Linked DNA regions of Homo sapiens. The protein of the gene in region 1 purifies or fractionates together with the protein of each later gene. This does not show direct contact. Each region holds a gene or a part of one and is shown in the gene's direction. Other genes may lie near its edges.

Region 1 (10,507 bases):
CCTTAGTGCTTTAGTGCTGAGGCAAAAGAGGAAAAGTGAAAGAATAAAATATCCCTAGGAAGAAGCAGCCACACATGAGTCCTTGCTCAGATTTGAAACTCCCATCCTGGATTAGCCAAAAAAACTCAAGCCAGGAATTTGATTTCAGGTTATTCATGAGTTTTAGGTGCCTGGCAAAAGCAAATATGAAGTGTCTCTGGAATATCTATCTTAGATCTGGAGGATCTTTCACAAATAACTGCTCAGGAGCATTCACCAGAAAACATTGAAAAATAACTAGGCACAAAAGAAAACAATATGACTAAGAACTATCAGAAAAAACAGACAACAGAAATAACCTGTACAGACTTTGAAACTGGCATTGTATGATACAGATTTTAAAAGTAGTATTTATATCTAAAGAAAAAAGAAACTATAGAAAGTCACCAGATTTGATGAAAAACTCATCAGAATTTCTAGAAATTATGACCAAAATAAACAAAATTAAAAGTTCATTGAAAGCTCATTAAATGTGTGCACACCAAAAACAGGATCCCAAAATACATGGAGTAGAAACTGATAGAGCTGAAAGGCAAAATAGACAAATTCGCAATTATAGGTAGAGATTTCAACACCCCACAATTGCCAATTACTACTGCTAGACAGAACTACTGGACAGAAAATCAGCAAGGATATAGAAATAAAGACACTCAACAACAGCATCAAATTGATGTGTAACAGAACTCTCCATCATCCAACAACAGCAGAATATATATTTTTTTCAAGCACCTATGGAATATTCACTAAGATAGGTCATATTCTGAGCTATAAAACAATCCTGAAAATGTATGAAACAAAAGTTGAAAGTACTAAAAAGAAAAACGGAAAATCCACAATCATAGTGAGAGATTTTAACATGCCTCTGTTTATAACTAATAAAAGAGGCAGACAAAAAAATCAGAACATAGATTTAAGCAAAACAATTAGTAATCTTGACTGAATGGACAGAACATTACATTTGACAACCATAGAATATGCATTCTTTTTAAGCACACGTAGGACATTTACCAAAACTCACCATATACTAGGACATCAAATATCAACACATTTCACAAGATTGAATCAATATAGAGTATATTCTCTGACTGCAGTGCAACTAAGCTAGAAATCAATAACAAAAGATAACCAAAAATCACAATATGTTTGGTAATTAAGAAAAATACTTCTAAATAAGTCATGGATCAAAACAGACATCATAATGGAAATTAGAAAATGCTTTGAACTGAATGATCATGAAAACACTACATATCAAAATTTGTGGGATTGTTTAGAGGGCAATTTTATAGCCTGAACTGTATATAGTAGGAAATAAGGATGTGAGGGTGATCTGGCTGAGACATCTGTCACCCCACTGATTGCCAGAGTTGATTCGGCTGATCTGGCTGCCTAGACGGGTTCCCCTTCCTCCCTCACCGCTCCATGTGCATCCCTCCCAAAGCTGCGTGCTCGGCTGAAGAGGATGACCATCCCCGATAGAGGAGGACCGGTCTTCAGTCAAGGGTATACAAGTAGCTGCACTCCTCTGCTAGAACCTCCAAACAAGTTCTCAAGGAAAGAAGGCAGACTGCAAATTAATTAGTTAGGCATACATCACAAGAAGTTAGAAAAAGAATAGCAAAATAACACCAATAGAGTAGAAGGATAGAATTATTTAAAATAAGACCAGAAATTAGTGAAACAGAAAGCAAAGCTTCAGTAGAGAAAACTAATATGCCAGAAGTTGGTTCTTTGAAAAGAACCAACTAATGAAATGACAAGCCTCTAGCAATATTGCCCAAGGAAAAAGAAAGAAGTCACAACCAACATTAGGAATGAAAATGGGCATCACTGCAGATGGTGCAGATAAAAGACATTAAACAGATAAAAGAATATCATACCGTCTGGTCCGTGCGCGATCACAGCCCGTCGCGTGGCTCGGGCTTGGGCAGAGCTGGAGACGCGTGGAGCTGTTCGAGGACTCGCAGTGCACATATGATATGTGTTTTAGAAATAGCTGTTAAACTTTTGTTTGAATGAAGAATGTCTCTCAATCCACCTATATTTCTCAAATGAAGTGAAGAAAATAATTCAAACTTTGTGGAAACAAAACAGTCACAAACTACTTCCATAGCTTCAGATGATATGTGTTTTAGAAATAGCTGTTAAACTTTTGTTTGAATGAAGAATGTCTCTCAATCCACCTATATTTCTCAAATGAAGTGAAGAAAATAATTCAAACTTTGTGGAAACAAAACAGTCACAAACTACTTCCATAGCTTCAGAAGATCCCCTTCAAAACTTATGTTTAGCATCTCAAGAAGTTCTTCAAAAAGCTCAGCAAAGTGGGAGATCAAAATGTCTCAAATGTGGTGGTTCCAGAATGTTCTACTGCTCTACATGTTACATTCCAGTTGAAAATGTACCTATTGAACAGATTCCACTTGTGAAACTTCCATTGAAGATTGACATCATTAAACATCCAAATGAAACAGATGGTAAAAGTACTGCTATACATGCAAAACTCTTAGCACCTGAATTTGCAAACATTTACACGTTTTCTTGTATTCCAGAATATGAAGAAAAGGACCATGAAGTTGCACTTGTTTTTCCTGGACCTCAGTCTATCTCAATAAAAGATATTTCTTTTCATCTGCAAAAAAGGATTCAAAATAATGTTAGCAGCAAAAATGATGACCCTGACAAGTCATCTTTTAAACGCAAAAGAACTGAAGAACAAGCGTTCTGTGATTTGAATGACAGCAAGTGCAAAGGCACAACACTGAAAAAAATTATATTTATAGATAGCACCTGGAACCAAACAAACAAAATATTCACTGATGAGCGACTTCAAGGTAAAAAATATATATATATTTTTTTGGACTGCTCCTCCCTCCAACTTATTTTGAAAAAACTTCAAACTTACAGATAATTTGAAAGAAGAGTTGCATTGAATACCTATATATTTTGCCACATTTACTTTATTTCTCTATTTCTCTTTATTATATATGTGAGCTTGTATTTATATATTATATATATTTTTTGTTGACCAATTGAAAGTAAGTTTCAGGCTTTGTAACACTTCACCCTTAAATATTAAGTGTACATTTTCTTTTCTTTTTTTTTTTTTTTTTTTTTTTTTGAGACAGTCCCACTCTGTTGCCCAGGCTGGAGTGCAATGGTGCAATCTTGACTCACTGCAACCTCCTCCTCCTGGGTTCAAGTGATCCACCCACCTCAGCCTCCCAAGTAGCTGGGATTACAGGTGCCCACCACCACACCTGCCTAAATTTTGTATTTTTAGCAGAGACAGGGATTTGCCACGTTGGCCAGGCTGCTCTCAAATTCCTGACCTCAGGTGATCCTCCTGCCTTGGCCTCCCAAAGTGCTGGGATTACAGGCATGAGCTATCATGTCCGGCCTAAGTGTACATTTTCTAAGAATAAGAATATTCTCTTATATTAATAAAGAATGACATCTCTTTTATAAACACCCCAATGGTGAACACATTTACTAAGAAGTTAGATCTTCTCTTTTGTTTTTTGCCTTACATGTGGTTTTTTTTTCTTTTTTTTTTTTTTTTTTTTTTTTGAGAGGGAGTCTTGCTCTGTTGCCTAGGCTCACAGTGGCGTAATCTCGGCTCACTGCAACCTCTGCCTCCTGGGCTCAGGCGATTCTCCTGCCTCAGCCTTGCTAGCAGCTGGGATTACAGGCACACACCATTATGCCCAGCTAATTTTTTTGTATTTTCATAGAGACAGGTTTCACCATGTTGGCCAAGCTGGTTTCAAACTCCTGACCTCAGGTGATCCCCCCACCCCGGCCTCCCAAAGTGCTGGGATTACAGGCATGAGCCACCGCACCCAGCCTGCCTTACAGTTTTTAAAAATAACTTTATTGAGGAAGAATTAACATATAATAAACTACGTATGTTTCAAGAGTATTAAAGTTGTCTCATATGTGTACAGCCGTGAGACCATCACTACAAGTTAGAAAATGAACATATCCAACCCCTGCCAAAGTTTCTGCCTGACTTTTATCATCTTTCTCATCCAGCTTTCCCCACAGCACACTTCCACGCTCTCCAACCCCATCTCTAATCAATGATCTATATCTACTTATTATAGATTAGGTACATTTTCTGGAATATTATATAAATTGAATCATATAGTATGTACTCTTTTCCTTTTTTTGGTTTGGCTTTCTCACACAAAATAAATAACTTGACACTCATTTTTGTTGTAGCATGTATCCATAGGTCATACATTTATTGCCAAGTAGTATTTCGTTGTATGGATATGCTACAATTAGTGTTATCTGTTTATCTGTTGATGGACATTTACACTACTTGTTTCCCATTTTCTACTATTTCAAATAAAGTTGCTATGACACTTGTGTAAAAAAAAAAAAAAGATGTTCTCCTGTATAATAAATACAGTACCATTATCACTCCTAAGAAAATTAATGAAAATTACATATCATCTAATATACTGTCCATATTCAAATTTCCCTAATTGACCCAAAAATACCTCTTGTAGCTTCCCCCCATATAGCATTTAAACTCATCACAATTTGGTTATTCTGTATCTTTAGTCTCTTTTAATCTAGAGTAGTCCTGTTTTTGTTTTTCATGACTTAGACTTTTGTGAAGAGGACAGGTCAATTGTCTGAATGTTTCATTGTGATTAGTTCCAGTCTAAATATGTTGGCTAGGATACTTACAGGTAAGGATAAATCCAGAGTTGTCTATGTCTAGTTTATATCTATTGTTTGGGTATAATTATTAATAACATGTAATTTCACTCTCAGAAATGAACCTTTTAGCTGATAAATTGTATGGTTAACCAATTCATAGGTGAATTCATACTTTATTGTTGTATCAAATTAGGATGCACACAATGCAAATTGTTCTATTATTTGTGATAACTTTCATTGCTTGATTAAAGCGGTGATTGCCAAAAAAAAAAGAATATCACAACTAACTTTATGCCAGTAAATTTCAAATTTTAGATATGATGAATAAAATCCTGGAAAATGTAAGTTGCCAAAATCATAATGAAGAAGTGAAATTCTGAATTATAATCATTAAGGAAATTAAATCAGTAGTCAAAAATTTGACTACTGAGTCTACTCCCACTCAGGATGAGGCACTGGAGATATTTAGCACCTGCCTGAATTCGGGCTGCCAGGTGGCGAGCGTCTGTCTGTATGTGCAACACCACTGCTCTCTCTTATGTAGGAATGTACCAGGTCATCCAGGGTATCATCTCTCCTGTCAGTGACAACACAAATTAAACTCTAGCCTCACAAAACTTCACTGGTGAGTTCTACAAAACACTCAGAAAAAAATGTTATTTCAGGCTGGGCACGGTGGCTCATGGCTGTAATCCCAGCACTTTGGGAGGCCGAGATGGGTGGATCACTTGAGGTCAGGGGTTGGAGACCAGCCTAGCCAACATGGCAAAACCCTGTCTCTACTAAAAATTTAAAAATTGGTCGGGCATGGTGGTGCATGCCTGTAGTCTCAGCTACTCGGGAGGCTGAGATTGCACCACTGCACTCCAGCCTGGGTGACAGAGCAAGACTCTGTCTCAAAAAGAAAGTTATTTCAGTCCTAACACACAAGATCTCTTACAGCATAGAAAGAGAGAACTCTCCAACGCTTTTTATGAGGCTAGCACAACCTTGATACCAAAATCTGATTAGGACAGTGAGAGAAAGGAAAATTATAGACCTGTCTTACTACCTAAAAAACAAATTAGCAAAGTGAACCCACCAGTACACAAGAAAGGTAATATATCTTGGCCAAATAGGGCTTATCTCAGGAATGCAGTGTTAGTTTAGGATTAGAAAATTAATCAATGCAATTTACCATATTAACTAAGTAAAGGAGAAAAAAAATCACACAATCAAGAGTTGCAGAAAAATCATTTAATAAAATTCAATGTTCATTTATGGCAGGCACTCTTAAACTAGGAATAACAGGGAATGTCTCAAAATAACATATTTGTCAAGATAGACTAGGCTAGCTGCAATAATAAATCCTCCAGTTTTAGAAGCTTAACACACAAAAATTTCTCTCTCCCCAGATGAATCCCATGTGGTTTAGACGATCTACAGGGCAGTTATCATGGTTAGTGAGCACAGTCCATGGCTATTTCAAAGTACGCTTTCCCACTCCATCAGCAGCACATTCCTCCCAGGTCAGTGGTGGCCTGTGCGACTAGTCCATCTACAGCCAATACCCACCAACCCTGGTTCACGCTAAAATCCCATCCCTTTGTCCTTCATCCTCAAAATCCCCATTTGGGCTAAGAAACTATATATAATTTTCATCCTCACATAGAGGGCAAAAATAGTGCCCCTGTTAATTCCTATAGAAGGGGAAGTCATGCTGTTCCTCAACTATATCCTGATCCTAACTGTCCTCACTGCTGTATGGGACCCTTGCCTGAGCGCCACCCTCACAGCCTTTGTCTCAGCAGAGAAGCCTTTCTCTCAGTGCTACCCGGGTTGTAGAAGGCTCTAGAGGAGAAGCACATGTTCACTAAGGTAGTGCCTTTACCCTTGCCTAAGGGAGCTACCCTTTCTCCCCCATGAGAGAATGCCAGAGTCTACTACCACTCAGGATGAGGCACTGGAGACATTTAGCACCTGCCTGAATTCAGGCTGCCAGGTGGTGAGCATCTGTCTGTATGTGCAACACCACTGCTCTCTCTTACCTAGGAATGTACCAGGTCATCCAGGGTATCATCTCTCCTGTCAACGACACCTATGGGAAGAAAGACCTCGCAGCTTCTCATCACCGAGTGGCCATGGCCCGGCTGGCCCTGCAGACATCCGACTGGATCCGGGTGGACCCTTGGGAGAGTGAGCAGGCACAGTGGATGGAGACAGTGAAGGTGCTGAGGTAATGGTAGTCACTCTCCTGTGTGATGACCAGGGGCCACGGGAGATGTCTGCAGAGCTTACAGGGTAAAAGGTAGGGCAGATTGTGGGGCTGGGTTTCTGCCAGACCTTCTCAGCAAATATCCAAGAAGCAGTTTCTACTTAGCAGGAGAGAGATCAACAGATTCACATTCTCAGAGAGGTCCCTGAGCAGAAAAATTACAAAACACTGTACTTTCAAATGCACTTTGTGGAAACACCCAACCTTATTTCAGATGACGGTAGCACTGGGGTCTAGTGCCACCACTTAGTAGCTGTGTGACTTTGAGCAAGTGATCTGAAGCCTCTGAGACATATTTCTCACTTGCAAAATGGAGACAACAAAACCGAATGAGGATTTTTTATATGTAAATAACTTTCCTGACCCAGAACTACATAATAATATTCAGTAGGTGGGACCTTTTGTTATTTTTATCATTGTCTAAGTTGAAAACTACATCTATAGAATAAGCTGTCTTTTTTAATTGTACAATTCCTGGGTTCTGTAAACCCAGACTTTTATGTGAAATAGAAAAAAAAGACTATAAATCTAGAAACAGTTACTCTGGATTATTTTTTCTTCTGGAATTTCTATTTGTATTCAGCATAAGTAATAAAACTGTTTAAAACCCCAAGCCAGCCCTGCATGTTAGGGCAGTGGGTCACTAGCTTGTGTCTGCAGACTTTAAGGGGGAATTGCCAGAGAAGCAGGAAGTCCCACCTCTCCTGGCTGTTGGGATTGTGAGTATGGCCTGCCTCATCACTAATGACAACCAGCTCTGCTGGAAGGGATTGCAAATTGCTGTGTCTTTTGTCTATTTAGAACCACTAGGATTGGCAGGAAATGGGAGGCAAAGGGACAAGGTGGAATGACTGACAGGCCTGTTCATAATGTGTTTTAGTTTTCATTTTTAACTTATCTTCAAAATCACTTGGGAGAAAAAGATTTACCTTTTTAGTAGAGGTAATCATTTAGTTTTTATATCCTGGTTCTTATTACTTACCTTTTACTGTGGAAAGAAGCAGCCAGAAGCATTCAGCAGTTACAGTGTTGCTTCAGAACCTGTTGCCAAATTAAAAGGAAAGCCATTATAAAATAATTGTTATGACACATGCTCTTCTTTATTTTTTAATGACCCATTAGTATAAACAAAGACCCTTATATTGAAAATTATATAAGGAATAAATTGACACCTAGATCATCCTTTTAGAATGAGTCATGCAGTCATTTCTCATTTATCTAGGCTAAGAGAGGGGGAATAGAAGCAAGAGAATAGATCATCCAACAAGTAATTTAGCTTTAATATGTAGGCAGAAACAGACGCTTGCTCCTCCACCCAGTGAGAAGCACTGTAGCCTAGGACACAGGTTTTAGAGCAAAATTTACTAGCTGAATTACTTGATATAAGTGATTTAGCCTCCCTGAGTCTCAATTTCTCACCTAATAAAATGGAAATGACATCACCCACTTCACTAGGATTCCGTGTGAATTAAATGAGATGATGTAGGCAAAACACCTGGTTTATGGTAGGTACTTAATAATGTTAGCTACCTTCCCTGAATCCCTAATGCTGGCCCATAATTTGTCCTCAAAACAGATAAGCCATTCATGGATAAATAGGAGTTGACCATAGTACTATTTACGATTACTTGTGCTTCTGCTGCAAAATACAGGAGTGAGCTAAGATTGTACTGAACGCATTCATTTTCTTTTTAATTTTTTTTTTTTGAGATAGGGTCTCAAAAAAAGCTCCATGGTGATTCCAATACATGGCTAGCCCACCACTTCAGCTGCCAAGTTTATTAATTAAGCTCTGTTGCCCAGGCTGGAGTGCAGTGGCATGATCTCGGCTCACTGCAACCTCCACCTCCTGGGTTCAAGCAATTCTCCTGCCTCAGCCTCCCAAGTAGCTGGGATTACAGGCACACACCACCATGCCCAGCTAATTTTTTGTATTTTTAGTAGAGACGGGGGTTCACCATGTTGGCCAGGCTGGTCTCCAACTCCGACCTCAGGCGATCCACCTACCTCAGCCTCCCAAAGTGCTGGGATTACAGGCATGAGTCACCACACCAGGCCTCTTTTTAATTTTTTTTAAATAACTCCTTTATTCTTGTGTTGCTCAGTGTTAGTTTGCACACGGGAATCACCCAGGGAGCTTTTAAAAGTACCCATGTCATTGGTCTGGGTTGGGGCATCAGGATTTTTAAAAGCTACCTGGTGATTCTAATATATGGCTAGCTCACAGCTTCAGCTGCCAAGTATATGAATTAAGCTTATGATCAGTACCAAGATGCATCCAAACCAGTGGTCTCAACTCTGGCTGCAGAAATCACTTAATAAGCTTTTTTAAATGCTCACCTCCTCCCACCCACCCCAGAGATTTTGATTTGTCAGGGGTGGGCTCTAAACATTGCTATTTTCATAAAGGTTCCCATATGTATTTTGTGCAACCAAAATTGAGAATCACTGTTACAGTCAACACAGTTTTATCAAATGCTGATTAAGATTTTTAAAATTATTATTTGGAGTAAGTTTCATCTCCAAAATGTACCAACTGCATTTGTGTTTGATTACTAACACTTTCCGAAAATTATCAAAATCAAAGTTTTTTAAGACTGAAAATCCAGTTATAATTGTAAAGTCAGGTGGTTTTAGAAGCATGGTAGAAATCCACCCCATCTTTTGCTCCATTTAGTGTCCTCTTGATAAAGTCCGTAGTGAATCTGCATCATAGTGACATAGTAACAAACATCTCTATGATGTAAATTCACTGTAGAGCTTACTGAGGATTCCTTCTTTCCCTATAAGATAGTTTGTTCTTTGCAGACATGATCTTGTGTTGTCCTCATTTTACAGATAAAGAAACTGAGGCTCAGAGAGGCTACGTTAATCACGGTCACACACAAATAGGACGTGGAGCTCCCATCTGTGGAGCTCTGAAGCCATGCTTATGGCCATCTTCAAAACAGGGATCTGCAGGCTGGGAACATGATGTGGCTGGCTTTACACCTCCCACAGTTGCCCTCCAATCTTTCCTGAAGACCAGTGGGACTGCTGAGGACACCAAGAACATGCCCCCAGGGTCAATCCACAGGCCCAAGGTACCACTCAGGCAGGCAGCAAGAAGCAGTTAATGGTCATGCCCCATAGAGGCGCAGTGGAAGTCCCTGGCAAATGCATGTTGTATTGGAAGTAATTATTTCCACAACAAAGTTCAGAGATCCAGCTAATATTCAAAGTAGGGTCAACCTGAACTAGGACCTTCAAGGTAAGTAAAATGAGAATCACCACCACCTTTTACTAATCACCCTCTATGTGTGCCAAGCTCTTTCATGTATATCTAGTAAGCTCAGCAACTCCAAGAGGTAGGTGGGTTTAGCCCTATTTTATATATAAGGACATGGAGATTCAGAAAGGGTTGTAAAATACTTCAAGTCCTACAGTTAGAAAGTGGAGGTGAGACTCAATCTACTTCAGTCTGATGTGAGAGCCCATGCCAATCCAAGGGTGAATCCTCAGAAATAAAGTTTACCAAAATCAAAGCAGTAAAACGATAATGAA
Region 2 (10,507 bases), on another chromosome or scaffold:
CCCACAGTGTACCAGAAACTCACCCATTGGTATAGACCCTCATGCCAGATTCCTTCCCTCTGCTAGATCCTTAGCTCTTAGAGTATAGGTACCATTTCTCATTCATCTCTGTGCCTCATGTTTAGTAAAGACAATGGCTGGCAGCCTTTGACTCCTCATGAACATTTAAAAATAAACAAAACCCTGGCCCCCTAGTGGCTGGCATCCTGGCACAGCAAGCTTACCAATCTTCTCTAGCACTGGGGAGGGGAACTGCACCCAACCCTTAACAGGCCAGCTCGCTGCCGATTGGCAAGAGGAGGGCCTCACCCAATTCCAGTCTACTCCTTCTGCCCTACCAGCACACTTGGGCTCAGGGAACAAACCCAGCCTAGAGCACTCCAGGGCTTAGGAGGTGGGAGCCCCATTTCGTGGCACCTTGATTGTGGTCCTCATTGATATCCTCAGTGGTGGCATTGCCCTTCTGATGAGAATAAGTAAGAAGATGATTCCTTAGGTTATTGACCATGCCATTGAGACTGAGAAGATGATTGAAAAGTACAGCGGGCTAGCCTCGGACCTGCTCACCTGGATCGAGCAGACCATCACTGTCCTGAACAGCCGCAAGTTTGCCAACTCGCTGACGGGCGTCCAGCAGCAGCTGCAGGCCTTCAGCACCTACCGCACCGTGGAGAAGCCGCCCAAGTAAGGGCCCTGGCACATGGGAGGGTGGTCCTCAGTGGCTGGGAAACTGACCACCAAAAGGTAGAGCCAGGTTCTGGGCCTTATGAAGTGTGTCCACAAGGCACACCCTCAAGATTAGAGAGCTGTATGTGTGTCACCTGCCTTGTGCCCCTCTTCACCACTCTTCTCCCAAGCCATCAGCTTAGAGAAACCAGCATTGATGAGAAACCTCGACTCACGACCAAAGACAGTGGCTTCTCCCAGATATCCCTGAGGAGGAACAGGAGGGAAATCATAGGCTTCTGAGTCTCTTTGAAGAACCCAGGCTGGAAAGCTCCTCTCTGGTCTGCCACTGAGCTGTGGGCTTGTTTTCTGATGACCTCTGTGCTCTCAGCCCCTGAGCTCTCTGCATGGGGCCTTATGGATTGTCAAGTTCATCCTTCTTTTTCTCTCCCATCTGTCACTGCTCAGCAACAGACCACTTAGCCTGCTTCTCAGGACCTCTGCCCCACCCTAGTGTGTGCAGAGCCTGTGTGCATATGCTTACACACATGTGCATGCAAACAACCGTGCACACACATGCATACCTGCATACACATAACCATGCATACACACAACTGTGCACCCATGAACATGCATGCACACACAAACATACACACACAACCGTGCACTCATACACATACACCTAACTATACATGCATTTATGTGTGCACACATAACTATGCACCCATGCACATATATATGCACATACAACCACATGTACAAATGCACATACATATATACAACCATGCATGTGCACATGCACACACAAACATGCACACATACACACATACACACGGGGCATTCCAGCTTATCTGCCATTAGCTTGTCCAGATCCTCTGAAATAGGCTTCTAGCTCATTGATGGTACCTTCTGCTCTGCTCTTCCCCCCATCTCCCACACTCTGCATTCATGACTTTCAAATGGGGAAAGGTGAAATGCTGAGTCTAGGATATACTATAAACAAGTATCTGGTTTCTAGTCTGACAGTAACCCATTTCTGAAGCCCTAAATCCAATACAGTTAGCATCCTCTATGAGTCTACCAGTCACTGCACACAGAGGTGTTATCTCTTGGCTGTGTAGACAGTGCTTCACGGTCACAGTTCTCTTAAGTGCCTGTGAGCACTGAGATCCATTAGGCTGGGCTCAGGGTGGGGACCTTGCATATAGCTGATCCTTGACTGCCAGGTCAAGGATGCAGAAATGGGTGGACACTTAGGTACATGCAGAAATGTGGAAGTACCTGATACCTGGAGCCTGTACCCCATATGCTAGACACCGATCCTGCTGACAATTCTTGTCTCCTACACCTACAAGCCTCTCAGAGCCCAGCCTTTCCTGCCTTCTGGGAAGCATCTGGCCTGTAGGACTTGTCAGGAGATCTGGCTCATTAGGACCTGGGTGAAAGCTGTTTTCAGTGCAGGATGCTCTCCCACGGAATATGCTGCTTCTGGGGTTTTATTGACTCACTTAATAAGGAACTGACCAGAGAGCTAGTAAGAAGCCCTCATCACTTGCAGCACAGAGAAGGTTTTTTAAAATTTTTTTTGTATTGATCCGTACAACTTGATATTTACAGGAATTACCAGAATACCTCAGCTTCCCATGTAGAGGCAAATGATAAATGCTGTGGTGGCCATTGTGTTTTCTCTGGTTTATATTGTAAAGACCCAAACCCCTAATAGATCTCAGTTGGTGAAAAGGATAGATGTTTTAACAGGTAAGCAGACCTACAGATTCTCTTTAGTTTTTCTGTGTTTTTAAGGGAAATATGCTTTGCTATCTACGCTTCAAGATGCCACAGTTCCGTGTTGACTTTAGCAAAAAAATTTGGCCATGAGATCTTAACATCAGTCTTCCTACTTCTGTTTTCTTGACAGGTTTCAAGAGAAGGGGAATCTGGAAGTTCTACTTTTTACCATCCAGTCCCGGATGAGAGCCAACAATCAGAAAGTGTACACACCCCACGATGGGAAACTAGTGTCTGACATCAACAGGGTACCACAGCATTTTCCGTTATGCATTGACAGTAGATTGATTGAATTCCCGATAAGGACACAGTGAATGGTCATTGGACCAGATTAAACCAAGCCACTTTCTTTGATGTTATTAATCCACATGTTGACTATTTGGGGGAGTTATCGAACCTGGTTCTGAGGGGTCAGACTCTACTCCCCCACCCTCCTTCAATCCCCCTGTTCAGATGCCCTGCATCCCTGAGTCCTTTTTTTTTTTTTTTTTTTTTTTTTTTTTTTTTTTGGAGACAGGGTCTCACTCTGTCACCCAGGTGGTAGTGCATTGGCACAATCACAGCTCACTGCAGCCTCGTCCTCCTGGGCTCAAGTGATCCTCCCACCTCAGTCTCAGTAGCTGGGACTACAGGCATGCACCACCACACCTGGCTAAATGTTACATTTTTTATAGAGACAGAGTCTGGCAATGTTGCCTAGGCTGGTTTTGTACTGGGCTCAAACAATCCTCCCACCTTGGCCTCCCAAAGTGCTGAGATTACACGTGTGAGCCATCACACCCAGCCTCCGAGTCCATTTTTTTGGAGCCAGTTTTGTAGCCTATCCTCTGTAGAACCTTGAGTTTGTCTTTGAAGATGGAATATTAACTACTTATAACCAAAGGGAAATGCCTATGACATTTCAGAGGCTTGGAGGCTTACCACCACCTGGCAGTTCATATTGAACGGAGGTAGCCATTAGTCAATAAGAACTTACTGAGCATCCAGAGAGGTGAAAAACATTATTTTGGGCCAAGAGTCTGAGGCAGGTTTAGGGGAAGAGGGAAGTGAGACTCATGAGCAGTGCCCTCTGAATCTTTGATGGGCCCAGACATGAAAGCCAAAGGCTTTTATTGATCTTTAATCTGCTACCACGTCACCCAAGAGCATCAGGCTGTACCTTGATTCCAGAAATCACTCAGTGTTGGGTGAAAGGGGTGGAGCCCCCAAAGTGAGGCATTTCTCCTGTGCCCCAAGAATTCTCATTCCATCCTTTGTGCAGGCCTGGGAAAGCCTGGAGGAAGCTGAGTATCGGCGGGAGCTGGCCCTGAGAAATGAGCTCATTCGGCAGGAGAAGCTAGAGCAACTGGCCCGGCGCTTTGACCGGAAGGCCGCAATGAGAGAGACCTGGCTCAGTGAAAACCAGCGCCTCGTGGCCCAGGTAATGAGGGACATGCTTTGGGTGACAGGAGAGGGGACATTCTTCAGAGCCCCCAGCTCTTGGCTGGGCTGGAGTCCAAGCTGGCTTCTCACAGCCTCTCCTCGTGCCTTGCAGCACAGCTCCCCCGTGATCCAGTGGATCAAGATTTGCATCTGGGGAGGAGCTCTCCAGGATTTATTAAATCTCATTTTTAGGAAAGAGCCTTGGAGTCTAGAACTGGCCGCTGAAGTTGTCTTATGTGGGCCTGTAGTGTCAACTACAGCTGGGGTTTCAGTTGATGTTAAATTGTGGTTCTTGGGGGATATGGTAAAATCACAGACTGCACCTTGTCTGTGTCAGGCATGCCTTTTGGACTCTGGTCTCTGGTGCTGTGACATAATTCTAGCTAAGAATTGACCCCAGGGCTGATTCTTCATCAGAGCATCTGTTCCCTCTCACTTAAAGCTTGGAATCAAATTAGATTCTGTCCAGAAAGGGGGCAACAAGTATTCTGAGAGCACTGGAGAGTGTATGCGCACCCCAGATAGCATGTGAATAAACCATCTGTTTGCTGGTGCATGGGTTTCCGAGTGAGAAGCAGCCCCTTCCTGCCCCAAATCCAACAGGTCCACTCGAGGCATGTGGGGAGTGCCAGCAGGCTGCCAAGGGGCTCCATTAGTAACACGCAGGCTGCATCTCCCACGCGGGTGGCACGGGGAGTAAAATCATGAACTTCTCTTAGAGTCTCTTGTGAGACATTAATTTTTGGAACTTGGGTCTGATAAGACAGGCTGCAAAAGTAAGGCAGAACTAGCTGCTTCTTGGGAATGTGCTTTCCCATCTAGCACTGGTTCTGAAGGGAGCTGCCCTGTCCCTGAGTTTGGGGATGAGCCCCTGGGTGTCTGACTGAGCTGCCTGTTTTTCTCCCGGTGGGGCAGGATAACTTTGGGTATGACCTGGCAGCTGTGGAGGCCGCCAAGAAGAAGCATGAGGCCATCGAGACCGACACGGCTGCCTACGAGGAGCGGGTGAGAGCCCTGGAGGACCTGGCTCAGGAGCTGGAGAAAGAGAACTACCATGACCAGAAGCGCATCACGGCCCGCAAGGACAATATACTGCGCCTATGGAGCTACCTGCAGGAGCTGCTGCAGTCCCGGCGCCAGAGGCTCGAGACCACCCTGGCACTGCAGAAGCTCTTCCAGGACATGCTGCACAGCATCGACTGGATGGATGAGATCAAGGTGGGCCCTGGGGGCCGCCCCCGCCATGCCCTGCAGTGCTCACCTTGGGTCTCAGTGGCCCTGCAGTTAGCATAGGCTTCCTTAGACACCTCCCAGCCAGTCATATCTCTGAGTCAAAATAGAGAAACTGAGGCAGCAAAGTGTCTAGCTGCACCTGCCTCTCTGCCTCTTGGTCCACTCTGCTCCAGCAGGTGATACCAGCCCAGGTCCATGGTACCCTGGTGACCGAGAAATCTTGGGTTTGTGGCAGCACCGGTGCCAACCTTCAGGGCCTTGAAGAGACAGACATTAATCAGGAACCTGGAGAATCAAGCTCTTAGTAATTACAATTTGACTCTGGTTAGAATCCAGACCTCCCAGCATGAGGGCAACCTCTCCTCTCTCTCTGCCGCAGTGGGTCTCAGCTGAGGACACACATCAGACTGCCCCTGGAGCTTTGTGAAAATACACATGGCCAGGCCCCAACCCTGAGACCGATGCAGTAGATGAGTGTGGGGCTTGAGCATCTGTAAGATGTTCTATGGATGATGCTGATGGGCACCCCCAGTAGGCACTCTCCCTCTGGAGCTTCTTCCATCCTCAGCAGCAGCCCTTTTCTGGCTGCATTTGGCTCACCCTTGCTCAGATTACTAGAGACATGCCCTTTGCAGGGGTCTCTTCTCCTAATGTGTAGGTCTCTTCACTTCTCCTCATTTCCTTTCTGCTGTTCTCTTTGCCAGGCTCACCTCTTGTCTGCCGAGTTTGGGAAGCACTTGTTGGAGGTTGAAGACCTGCTACAGAAGCACAAGTTGATGGAAGCTGACATCGCCATCCAAGGGGACAAAGTGAAGGCCATCACCGCAGCCACCCTGAAGTTCACCGAGGGGAAAGGTGAGACCAAGTCTGTCTCCCCTTTTGAGGCTTCCAATGCCAGAGCCTCACCTCTGGCCTAACAACCCAACTTGGATAAATCTCCTGGAACCAACTTTAAAGTTCTGTTACTTTCATCAAGTAATGGTCCAAGAAAGAAGCTTGAGGGACCAGCCAAATTCTCTAGAGAGCAGGCAACTGCTTCGGTAACCTATAATCACCAAGGAGGCACCCTCTGTCCTTCATTCTCCTTGCTAGTTCAAGTTATGGCTGAGACAATTTAGGTTTCCAGATTCTTGTTTTAAATAAGAGACCTCACTGCATCTTTCAAGAATGACCTTGAAATTTTTTTAATTAATTTAAAAATAATTTTATGTTGTACATTTCTATTAAGAACTAACCCCACTTTTTATCTTCCTTAACCCTGAAGTTCAGTGGGAAATAATTATAAAGAATCTGTCCACCCTCTGAGCAACTGGGACCCCCCTGCATCCAACCCCAAAGCCCCAGTGACATGGCAGCTTCAGGGTTGTGTAGTTCCAACCTAGCAGCTTATCTGAAGCGTGCCCATAAATGAAGCCCATCCCCCACTTTGTCCTCCTTCCCCCTATTTCTTCCAGGGTACCAGCCTTGTGACCCCCAGGTCATCCAGGACCGCATCAGCCACTTGGAGCAGTGCTTTGAGGAGCTGAGCAACATGGCAGCTGGGCGGAAGGCCCAACTGGAGCAGTCCAAACGACTCTGGAAGTTCTTCTGGGAGATGGATGAGGCTGAGAGCTGGATCAAGGAGAAGGAGCAGATCTATTCTTCCCTGGACTATGGCAAAGACCTGACCAGTGTGCTCATCTTACAGCGCAAGCACAAGGCCTTTGAGGATGAGCTCCGTGGGCTGGATGCTCACCTGGAGCAGATCTTCCAGGAGGCTCATGGCATGGTTGCGCGCAAGCAGTTTGGGCACCCGCAGATCGAGGCCCGCATAAAGGAGGTGTCGGCACAGTGGGACCAGCTGAAGGACCTGGCTGCCTTCTGCAAGAAGAACCTCCAGGATGCTGAGAACTTTTTCCAGTTCCAGGGCGATGCGGATGACCTGAAGGCTTGGCTGCAAGACGCCCACCGGCTGCTCTCTGGTGAAGATGTGGGGCAGGACGAAGGGGCCACGCGGGCCCTGGGGAAAAAGCACAAGGACTTCCTGGAGGAGCTGGAGGAGAGCCGTGGGGTGATGGAGCACCTGGAGCAGCAGGCCCAGGGATTCCCCGAAGAGTTTCGGGATTCCCCAGATGTGACCCATCGGCTGCAGGCCCTGCGGGAGCTCTACCAACAGGTGGTGGCCCAGGCGGACCTGCGTCAGCAGAGGCTGCAGGAAGCCCTGGACCTGTACACGGTGTTCGGGGAGACAGACGCCTGTGAGCTGTGGATGGGAGAGAAGGAGAAGTGGCTGGCCGAGATGGAAATGCCAGACACCCTGGAGGACCTGGAGGTCGTGCAGCACAGGTCAGAGTTAACTCATCTTTTCCTCACGTCCCTGTACCCAGGCCTGGGCACCATCTCCCACCTAGTTTGGTAATAGTCTCTGGATCAGCAAAGGTCTCTTTGAGAGGCCCTGGGATGTCCTTTGTTGCAAAGTCCTGGCATTAGGAGTCATAAGTTCTATTCTGGCTCTGTGGCCTGGGGTACTTCACCCTTTGGGGCCTTGTGTTCCTCAAACAAAGGGAATTTATCTAGTCCAGTTATTCAATTACTTTTCAGCAATAGCAGTCTTTGCTCAGATGAATTGTGTATGGAACCCCCAGGTCACACAGAGGAAAAATGGAGCTACTCTGGAGAAGGAGGTTGAGAGGCCAGGACCCTGCCAGCTCTAGCTTTCTGTGGCAGTCCTTAAGCCAGGAGACTCTGAGGGGCCACAGAGAGAATTTGCAAACCCCCTGTCTGCAAGGCCACTCTCACCCCTGGTGTTCTGATTTTGTCAGCACCCCAGATGATGAGGCATGCCCCAGTCTGTGCAGCATCTCAGCAGCTGAAGCACAGAATTCAGGCAGTCAGGAGAAGGAGAGGCCGCTCTCTGGAACAGTGCCAAGGTGGTGCTGCACTGATGCTGGAGAGTCCTGGGCTCTTACCCTAGAAGGATCGGCCTTCAGAACCACAAATTCCCCCCGACCACCGCCCCAGCAGCTTTTCCTTATCTTACCCAGGAATGGAGCACCTGGCTGGAAAGGGTATCTTTTGGGTTAAGATGTCAAGGCATTGGACTCAGAGTCCAAAAGCAACAGCCGGAAAAGCAGAGGCCTGGAAGGTGGCCCTTGTGACAATTGACATCCCCCACACAAATACACAGTAACCTCTCTTCAGCCCTCCCTCCCCTTCATATGTCTCTCTTGAGCCAGAAGCCCGTGTAGGAAGTAACTGGCTCTCTCCCGGCCTGTTCCAGGCAATGCTAACTCATGAAATCAAACCCATGAACCAGAAAGGAGGGCCAGCATATCTGTTTTCTTCCTCCTGCCTCACCTGGGCAAATGGTTTAGGCAGTGGAAGGAGAAAGCAAGAGCTACATGTTCTGGAGACTGGGGGTGCCACTGGCAAGGAAATGTCTGCTGCCGCCTCACCCATCCTCATATTTTCCTTTGCCCATATCAGGTTCGACATCCTGGACCAGGAGATGAAGACCTTGATGACTCAGATTGATGGTGTGAACCTCGCTGCCAACAGCTTGGTAGAGAGTGGCCACCCACGCAGCAGGGAGGTGAAGCAGTACCAGGACCATCTGAACACCAGGTGGGGTGTGGGTAGGGCATGGGGCGGGGGCATTGTCTCTCAACATCTGACACACTGCTGGGGGCCGGGCCCAAAATTTAGTCCACCTAGTATGCACCAACACTTCTATACCCTCAACATTCCTGTCTTTTTTTTTTTTTTTTTTTTTTTTTTGACACAGAACCTCACTCTTTTACCCAGGCTGGAGTGCAGTGGTGCGATCTCGGCTCACTGCAACTTCCACCTCCTGGGTTCAAGCTATTCTTGTTCCTCAGCCTCCCAAGTAGCTGGGATTACAGGCGTGCGATACAATGCCTGGCTAGTTTTTGTATTTTTAGTAGAGATGTGGTTTCACCACGTTGGCCAGGCTGGTCTCATTCCTGGCCTCAAGCGATCTGCCCACCTCGGCCTCCCAAAGTGCTGGGATTACAGGCATAAGCCACCGCGCCCCCACCGACATTCCTGTCTGTCTCAGCCACAGTCCCCTTCCCAGTAGTACTGGAACTATAGCAGCAAGGAGGAATGATTGAGGTGGTGAACAGCCCAGGGAGGGAGAGAGACGAGTCCTGGGAGGCTCGAATGCTGTGCCTGGGGAGGGTGGGTGTGTATGTGTGATGGAGGGCACATCCCAAGTGTGCCCAAACTTAGAATCAGGCCATATGCTTCTCATGCTATATTTCCCTGGACATTCTTGGGCAGAGAAAATTGCTTTCTGAGAGCTCTTAAGTACTGTCCATAAAATAATGCTCCTGCCTCTGCCAAATGCAGTATCGATAATGAGGCTGGCTTGAAGGAAGAGGAGAATTAGCAGGGAGCCTTAAGCAAGCTTTGTGGCCAGAACAAAAAATAGGCCCCAAGGAGCCTTTAGAGAGGGGGTGCTTTCAGTGTGGGGTGAAATTGCCCATGAGTTCCTGGAGGATCTTTGAGGACACCGCAAATGCCTGCATTCCCTGTCTTTACCGTGGGCCCTGCACATGCAATGCCACATGTTCACCACCTCCCCATTACCCCAGCCCCTTCCCCACACCTGTGCCTGAGCGTTGCTCTGCCTGAGGCAATCTGGGAGGTGGGCCTAGGGAAGACTCCATTGTAAAGAAAGGGATCGGCACAGTGGAGAGTTCACTGGGGGGCTAAGGGGAGGCAGCGATGACCAGAATTCTTTAGAGCCACTAGAATGGGATGATTGTCTTAGCAGCCCAAGCTGCAGAGTGCGGTTTAGGAGATTCCTTTGTCAATCTGATGTTTTACAAAGGAAGAGAATACCTCTTCCCTCTTCTTTCGCCTTGTAGGTAATGAGTTTGTGTGTGTTGGTGGGCAGGAGGTGGTAGAGATTATTGCAATTGCTGCATAATTGAGGAAACTAGAGCAGGTCTAAACCAGAGAAACTTCCTGAGAGGAAGAACTCATCAGCTCAACAATAAACTATAGTCTGAGAATGTTGATCTTTACAGACCCCTAAAACAGGCCCCATCCCCAAGAGAAAAATATCAAGGTACCTGCCATCCTTAAGTGAGAAAAAAACCCGAGGCATGAAATTAAATTTGAGAGTTGAAAGGAACCTGAGAAGTCACCCAGTCTAGCCAGTGATGGGGAACTCACTCCCTCACCCGGCAGCCTATCTCATTTTTGGGCAATTCTTTTTGGTTAAAAAGTTTGCTCTTCCATTGAGTGGAAATCTGCCTCCTTGAAATGCGTACATATTGATTCTGGCTCTGCCCTTGAGAGATATCACACTTACCCTGGTTCCTCTTCCGTGTATAGCTCTTCAATTATTTTTCAGAACAATGCTCATTCTATACCTCCACCCCCAGTGTCG

What was found.
Region 2: the proteins of NMNAT3 (region 1) and SPTB purify together in Homo sapiens (affinity purification with mass spectrometry; 2 studies listed by BioGRID and IntAct, with this or other methods). This does not show direct contact.

Annotation. Positions count from the first base shown.
Region 1 is NC_000003.12:139,575,290-139,585,796, reverse strand, and holds part of NMNAT3 (nicotinamide/nicotinic acid mononucleotide adenylyltransferase 3), read left to right. Parts: intron 1-2,477; exon of another isoform or gene 2,478-2,588; coding exon of another isoform or gene 2,589-2,870; intron 2,871-6,741; coding exon 6,742-6,925; intron 6,926-7,946; exon of another isoform or gene 7,947-8,005; intron 8,006-9,802; exon of another isoform or gene 9,803-10,214; intron 10,215-10,507. UniProt on the Homo sapiens protein: Catalyzes the formation of NAD(+) from nicotinamide mononucleotide (NMN) and ATP. Can also use the deamidated form; nicotinic acid mononucleotide (NaMN) as substrate with the same efficiency. Can use triazofurin monophosphate (TrMP) as substrate.
Region 2 is NC_000014.9:64,789,924-64,800,430, reverse strand, and holds part of SPTB (spectrin beta chain, erythrocytic), read left to right. Parts: intron 1-496; coding exon 497-684; intron 685-2,584; coding exon 2,585-2,702; intron 2,703-3,715; coding exon 3,716-3,874; intron 3,875-4,791; coding exon 4,792-5,094; intron 5,095-5,813; coding exon 5,814-5,964; intron 5,965-6,563; coding exon 6,564-7,434; intron 7,435-8,574; coding exon 8,575-8,712; intron 8,713-10,507.